Linked DNA regions of Homo sapiens. The protein of the gene in region 1 interacts with the protein of each later gene in a biochemical or structural test. Each region holds a gene or a part of one and is shown in the gene's direction. Other genes may lie near its edges. The genes, in order: PTPRC and MRC1.

What was found.
Region 2: the proteins of PTPRC (region 1) and MRC1 form a complex in vitro, tested with the Homo sapiens proteins (one large-scale study listed by IntAct).

The regions. Positions count from the first base shown.
Region 1 is NC_000001.11:198,642,009-198,645,837, forward strand, and holds part of PTPRC (receptor-type tyrosine-protein phosphatase C isoform 1 precursor), read left to right. Parts: intron 1-3,829. UniProt on the Homo sapiens protein: Protein tyrosine-protein phosphatase required for T-cell activation through the antigen receptor. Acts as a positive regulator of T-cell coactivation upon binding to DPP4.
Region 2 is NC_000010.11:17,815,761-17,819,589, forward strand, and holds part of MRC1 (macrophage mannose receptor 1 precursor), read left to right. Parts: intron 1-3,829. UniProt on the Homo sapiens protein: Mediates the endocytosis of glycoproteins by macrophages.

The DNA.
Region 1 (3,829 bases):
TGATTAGAATTACTTATTAATTTGAAAAAAAATGTCCTACTAAAAACCTGCCTGTGACCTTTATCATTGCTAAAGTTTGAAATGTACTTTGTTACAGGAAAGACTACGGCTAGGGCCTATATTATCTTTTTCTCTTTTGTTCTGTGTAAGTAAGTATAGGGGCAGAGTAGTTAGCTTGAACTTAGTTCTTTCTTTGTTCTGGACTATTTGCTATCCTCTCACCAGTGACAATTAACCAGTATAGAAATATAGATGTTTCTACATTGTTCATATACTTGAACATATATTTCTTTATGTAGATACTCACACATAAACTAGTTATATATTTGTGGGTTATATATACTAGTCAATCTATCTATCTGTCTATCTATCTATCTATCTATCTATCTATCAGTTCTCCATGTTTGTCTATTTGGCGTTCCCATGAACTTCAGACCTTCGCCTGTGTTCTCTTTTCTCCATTTGGTTACGTATCATTGCCTACTATGTGTTGATCACTCTGATTCTCCATCTCTAGACTCATCCCTCAGAAACACGGAACTTACTACCTTTCCTAAATCCAGACATTAACATGCTCCCCAAGTCCTGAAATTTTGCTTTGTAATAATCTCTAATAACTTCTTGCTTTGACACCTCCATTGCCATCATCTTAATTCATGGCTTTATTATTTCTCACCTGTAAAATTGTAATAGTTTTTTTAATCAGTCTGAAGTCTCATCCTTTTTTTAATGTAATCTACAGCTTAAAAAGTAAAATAAAAAGTGAAGGGTTACTGATTTCTTCTCATTGCCTTTGGTATAAATTCTAATCTTTTTTGCCAGAGAAACTGGTTCCACTAATGATCTGGGGGCTAGGCCTGGAGCTGGGAAGGGATCTTTTTTCTTTTCTTTCTTTCTTCCTTTCTTTCTTTCTTTCTTTCTTTCTTTCTTTCTTTCTTTCTTTCTTTCTTTCTTTCTTTCTTTTTTCTTTCTTTTTCTTCTATGATTGATTAAAAGAAAACAAACAGGAGGTAGTTTTAACACCCACCTCTATACTTTCTCAAGGTGTTTAAGGTTCTGGGCAAATCCTACTTCTTCTATTATGTTCTCTTATGTCACTTTTGCCACAAAATATTTCCATTGAATTGCACACTTTTTATCACCTTTTCTTGGCATTTTTCAAGTCATTTCAATCTGCTCTTTTTTGTGATGATGATTGATGATGATGATGACATGTGAATTAGTGGATTTCTTGACATTGTAACCTACATGAAATCAGGTATAGGAGACACAAAAGGCATAAACTCATAGTTCCCATACCTAATTTTTCACCAGACACTGAATAAATCATAGATTAAAAAAATAAAACTGCATATTGTAGTGACAAAGGAAAGGAAAATTTTCAAAGAGGGAAGTCAAAAAGAGGGAGAATATGAGATAAAAAAATTAACCAGAGGCGAAGTGGGAGGATGAAGACAGCAGGACTATTTTGTCCAGATTAAATTAAGTTGATTTTGGATCTAGATGTTTACAGTCTTGCCTTTTTGTTTTTGTTTGTTTGTTTGTTTGTTTTTTCTTTGCTCCCTTTCTTACTCTCCTTATCTCACCTCTCGTCTGGAAAGAGCCTCCTGACTTCCTAAAAGTTCATAGTTTGAGAATGTTTTTCCTAAATTTTCTTTGATCTGCTCTTTGGACATTCTAGGTAATGTAATTTGGAGGGTCAATTTTATTTTTCAGATACACATACCCATAGGAGAAAAAGCAAGGAATGGGAGGGAAATACAAATGTAGCGGAGTGATAACACAAACAGATCAGGTCCAGTCATGGCAATTGCTGGTTTGAACACTGATGCTAGTGCTCTGGGATTGCTTGCAAGGGCAGATGGAATATGGTGCACCCTAGGTGTTGCATTATTTGCACGACAAAAGTTTGTAGAGAGCTGGGAATAATTTCTTTACAGACAGTGTGGTGATGAATGTCAATCTGAGTAGGTAAGGGGCAGAGATTTGTACTGAGGTTGATTCATTCTCTTGGTAAATACACAATGTTCACAAAGGCAAGGTTTCATCTTCAGACCATGTGTGTATATGTCACCTTGGTGCAGAGAGAGAAATTTTTCATCAGTGCTGACCTTTGATTTTTTTTTCTAGACATCTTATAGATTTATGTAGTTATTTACATGGGAAACAATTAGAATGGAAATTTAACATATCTTCAGTTTAAAATTAATTTCTGTCTAGTCTAAATATCTTTGTAAGTACTAGATACTCAATCCCATAGCAGTGGCCTTTTACCAAAGGCTTAGTGCTATGACTTTTGCATACATAAAGACCTCACTTTTTAAGATATGATACACCAGAAAAAAAATATGGCAAGACTTTAGCAATATGATTTGATGCCTATTTCTATATAATACCCAAATATACAGGAATAAAAATTATGGCAATCACTGGATTTTGTGTACCTGGCTCTAACCAATATTTATATTAGAAAATATCTAATTATTGTCTAAAATATTTAATCTTCATTCCTGTTTGTATGTCAGTGTGCTACTTCAATATCAGTCTGTTAAAAGAGTCTAGGAATGACTACTATAAGCAGAGAATTATATGTTCAGGAATCACAACAAAAAACAAGAACAAATAGAGAAACAAAAGCTTTCCTACTCTTTCATCTAGGACAAGAATAAATACACATAAAGTCAATATTAGTGAAGTAAACAAGCATCTTCTATATCCATTCATAGTACCTTCAATTGATTGATTTCTTAACAGACAATCAGCAAAATTATCAGTTTTTATTAGAGATTTTAGTAGAGACCGAGCTTAAACAAATATATTCTATGGTGCTTAACTCTATAGTATTTAAAGATTCAATATTTATTTCCTCTAAAAATGAGTCAAGTGTCTGAAAGGAAAAAGCCACCTAACTGAAACTTCAGTTTCTACTATACAGGGTATTTATTATAAAACTGTAATTACAATGCAATTATATTGAAGTATAAATGATCATCATTCATTTATTTAAGAATATAATCAAAATTTGCATACCTGGAAGAAAACCATCCACCCTCCAAAATAGGGATTTGCTAATGTAGGAGTAGAAGGCAAAAGTTGAGGGTAACTCAGGTAACACACTCATACGTATTAGGATATGAACAGCTGGTATAGCAAACTTGATAGAAATCACTGATAGACAAGAAGACATTCTCTGCATTTTAAATTAAAGTACAATTTGTCTGTGGTCATTCAAGAGATAGTTTAGAGAAACCTATACAAATAACAATGATGCTAAGAGACAATATCAAAATCACAATAAATATCATGGCAATACAGTGTGGCCACTATATTTTAAACACATCCACTTGATGAAAAATATAATAATTTACTGATAAAACATATTAAGCATAATAGAAAATGAGGCAGAAACCACTCCAAGCTGGGAAACATCATGACATCTGTAGTGATAAATATTTTGAAAATCTAACTCTATGAATCTTGTGATTTTTAGCTAAATCAATTTTCACCCTTGAGACCCAATTTCCTCATCTATAAAGTGTTGTAAGCATTAAAAGTTATAATATTTGTGAAAATGCTTTGAAATTATGTGATACTCTGAGAAGTAAATTTTTTCATGTGAGCCCATGAAATCAGAGCACATAGCCTTTTAGCATAAACTTGATTCCAAATGATATCTCTTCCTTTCAGACACTGTGAGCAGATAAAGGGATAGTTTAAGGTTAAGTGATAGAGGCATAATCCCTTATAGGCCTTTGAATTCTTTTAACTTTGCATTCTTTATTTCAGAGATTTTTCAGGCTTCTCCAGATTCTACAGTCTAAATAGTTTG
Region 2 (3,829 bases), on another chromosome or scaffold:
GGATCAAAGTGACAAATGAAGTAATTCTCTGTTTTTTTTTCTTTTGTTCAACATTTCATTTCTTTTTCTTTTCTTTTTTTTTTTGAGATGGTGTCTCACTCTGTCGCCCAGGCTACAGTGCAGTGGCACGATCTTGGCTCACTGCAACCTCCGCCTTGTGGGTTCAAGAGATTCTCCTGCCTCAGCCCCCCATAGCTGGGATTACGGGCATGTGCGACCACATAGGCTAATTTTTGTATTTTTAGTAGAGACGCGGTTCCACCATGTTGGCCAGGCTGATCTCGAACTCCTGACCTCAGGTGATCCGCCTGCCTTGGCCTCCTGTTCAACATTTCTAAGCCTAAGACTGACTAACACCCTCCATCAGCCCCCAGCACCTGGCATAGCTTCTTGAATGTACTAGGTGCAGGGTAAATATTTGTTTTTCACTGAATTTGGGGTCTTTGGGGAAAACATAGGTACATTTATTTAACTGAGGCTGGTGAACATATTTCTTAGTTTGGATTCCCCAAGAAGCTGTCCTCAGACAATTGCACTCTGGTTTGAGGGCAAGTTAGTTTATTTGGGAAGTGAGCCCAGGAAACACTGACAGGGTAACGGGGAAGTGAGACAGAAAGGGAAGGTGTGTGGACACCCAGTGACCGCTGTGGGCAATGGAGTGTAGGAGCTCTGGGCGACGGTGTGGAATGGTTGCCTTGGACTCATCACATCCAAGGTACAAGAGATTTAGAGCCGTCAGCGGTTCTCCTTGGCCTCTGATGAAGGCTTCCTCCTACAGGGCATTCGTTTTCTGACCCATCTAATTTGTGCCATGTTTGAGCCTAGAGGGCTCTGATAGCCAGAAAAAGCCCCCAGGGCAAAAGGCGTGGTGCTGGCGTTTGGGAGTGGGGCCTGCATGCACCTAAACAGCGAAGGCCGAGGAGAAATAGTATAAATCTGGAGGCATCTGCTACAGCTACTTGCTGCTTTTCCTCTTATCTGGCTTCTCTGTCTTCCAGAAGTTATTGTCTTTTGTGTTCCAATGTCAGCATTTTATTTGCTGATAGTCAGGAAAATCTAAAAATGTATAAGAAAATGTAGCATATCATACTTATCTCCCTGAACAATCACCTTTAATAACCAAATTTTCTTTGCTAGTAGGCTTGGGAATTTAATGACTTGTTCAATGTTGCGGCATAATTTTAAAAATGCTTAAAAAAAATCCAGGCCAGGCGCGGTGGCTCATGCCTGTAATCCCAGCACTTTGGGAGGCCGGGGCAGGTGGATCACTTGAGATCAGGAGTTCGAGACCAGCCTGGCCAACATGGTGAAACCTCATCTCTACTAAAAATACAAAAATTAGCTGGGTGTGTGGTGGCACATGCCTATAGTCCCAGCTCCTGAGGAGGCTGAGGCACGAGAATCGCTTGAACCTGGGAGGCGGAGGTTGCAACGTGTTGAGATCACACCACTGCACTCCAGCCTGGGCGACAGAGTGACTCTGTCTCAAAAAAAAAAAAAAAAAAAAGAAAGAAAATCCACACCTATGTTACTGGATGTTTAGTCTTTAATCATTTTTAACCTGAGATATTGGGTTGAAACTTATTGCATGTTACTGGATGTTTAGTCTTTAATCATTTTTAACCTGAGATATTGGGTTGAAACTTATTGCTTCTTTACTAAATGTATTTTGATCCTTGATCTTTTTGCCTTTGAGTTAACCACAGCAGAGAGTGTGCTCAACATGGCAGGAAACTTATGTCTTTTGTTTGTCTTTGTATTGTCATTAGCATAGCATCTGGCGTGTGGTCATTGTTTGTCAAGTATTTGTTGAAAAATTAATGTGAAATTAGTAAGATCAAGTTAGGATGGAAGGAGAATCACTGCAATTCTGGATATAAATTTCTGATGTGTAAGTATTAAAAAAAGAAACTCACATATTAGATCCTACAAAAGAGATTGCAGAGAAATTAAAACAGATCGACTGTGTCGATCTGTTCATCTTTGCCGTATTTCTGTTACAAAAACATAATTGGTATGGACAAAAATAGAATGTTTATAAATGTTGGTGTGGTTAATATTGGTAAAAATGCCACAAGCTGCCTTTTGGCCAACGTCTTGAATACGCCTTCAGAGGAAGAAGTATGACATTTTAAGTCAGACATGTTGCAGAGATGATGATAAAGGCAAAATGACATGCTGATTACTTGGGGAGAAGAATAATGCACGATGAATGTATCACCATAGAGCAATAATTTTACATTTCCTTGTATTGTCTGGCAAAGGCAATATCAAACTTACACTGCTTCCTAATGGCAAAAGATAAATAAAGGAAACAAGAATAGATAAGTGTGTATTGAAACAGAACCTTTTCATTTCCAAGTACCCTTTTTGTAAGTATACACATTTCTAAATTGCTCTTCAGTAAAAATAAGCTTTCAGGGGAAAAATGAATATTCAGCATACCTGTAATCATTAATCTATCATTAGATAAATAATTTATCTGGGTTACTAGTTAAGATGCTTCCGCTTAATAAACATTCTTTCATTCATTCAACTAATTATTTGTTGAGAGATTATTTATGCTCCCCAAAAAGAGACTGCAGCACTAAATCAGAAAGATCAAGTACCTCGTCTCATGAAATTTACATTCCAGTAGGGGACTATGGACAGAACATTAGTAAACAAATTGAAGAAAAATATATTTTAAGATGGTTATGGATATTATATGGTAAATAAAAGAATAAAATGAGTTAGGATGATCAGCCTGCTACGATGTTGACACTTGGCTGGGCGCAGTGGCTCACACCTGTAATCCCAACACGTTGGGAGGCCGAGGTGTGCGGATCACTTGAGGTCAGGAGTTCGAGACCAGCTTGGCCAACATGGTGAAACCCCACCTCTACTAAAAATACAAAAATTAGGTGGGTGTGGTGACATGCACCTGTAATCCCAGAGCTGAGGCAGGAGAATGGTTTGAAATCAGGAGGCTGAGGTTGCAGTGAGCCAAGATGGCGCCACTGTACTCCAGCCTGGGTGAAATAGCAAGGGTCTGTCTCAAGGAAAGAAAGAAAAGGAAAGTTGACACTTGAGCTGTGACCTTAGTGAGCATCCCAAGAAGAGGGAACTCAAAACATGAAGTCACTAATGTGGAAGTGAGCCTGGAGAGTTTGAGGAGCTGAAAGGTGGTGTGGTTGGTGGTGAGGGCAGACAGGTCACTGTTCCCTTTCTAATAAACAATGATATAGGGGCTGGATGTATTTTTCCTGGGTACAGTGGTTCCCTTTTGCAGGGTTTAAGTTGTTGAGAACTTGTAGTTAGAAACCCAGTCTCCTTCCCACCCAGAAAACCTCTCCATAAAGGTAGATGAGAAAGAAAAGAATTTTACTATTGAGTGAACATTCAACCAGAATGTGGTGTACATCGCAGGCAATCTGCAAAAGAGATGGGAAAAACAGAAAGAGATCTCACTCTTGTAGGTGGCTCAGTGAAGACCACCTATTATATTAGGTAGGTTTTGCAATTTGGCATCAGGTGACAAGTCAGGCCCGGCTCCTCCCAGAAAACTGGGAGATCAGGTGTTATCTTTTTTGATGATTCCATTTTCAAGAGAGGAAGATTAGAGCCAAACCATGGTGGCTTGGCCTGGGATGGTGTAAATGGAGTTGGAGCAAAGAGAATGAATTAGGGTATATGTATGAATTCAGAGTTGTATGTGTGTGTGTGTGTGTGTGTGTGTGTGTGTGTGTGTACACAGAAAGGGAAGAGAAGAGGGTGGAGAGAGGGAGAGAGAGAGAGTTATTTAAGGAATTGGCTCACACAATTGTGGAAGCTGGCAAGTCCAAAACCT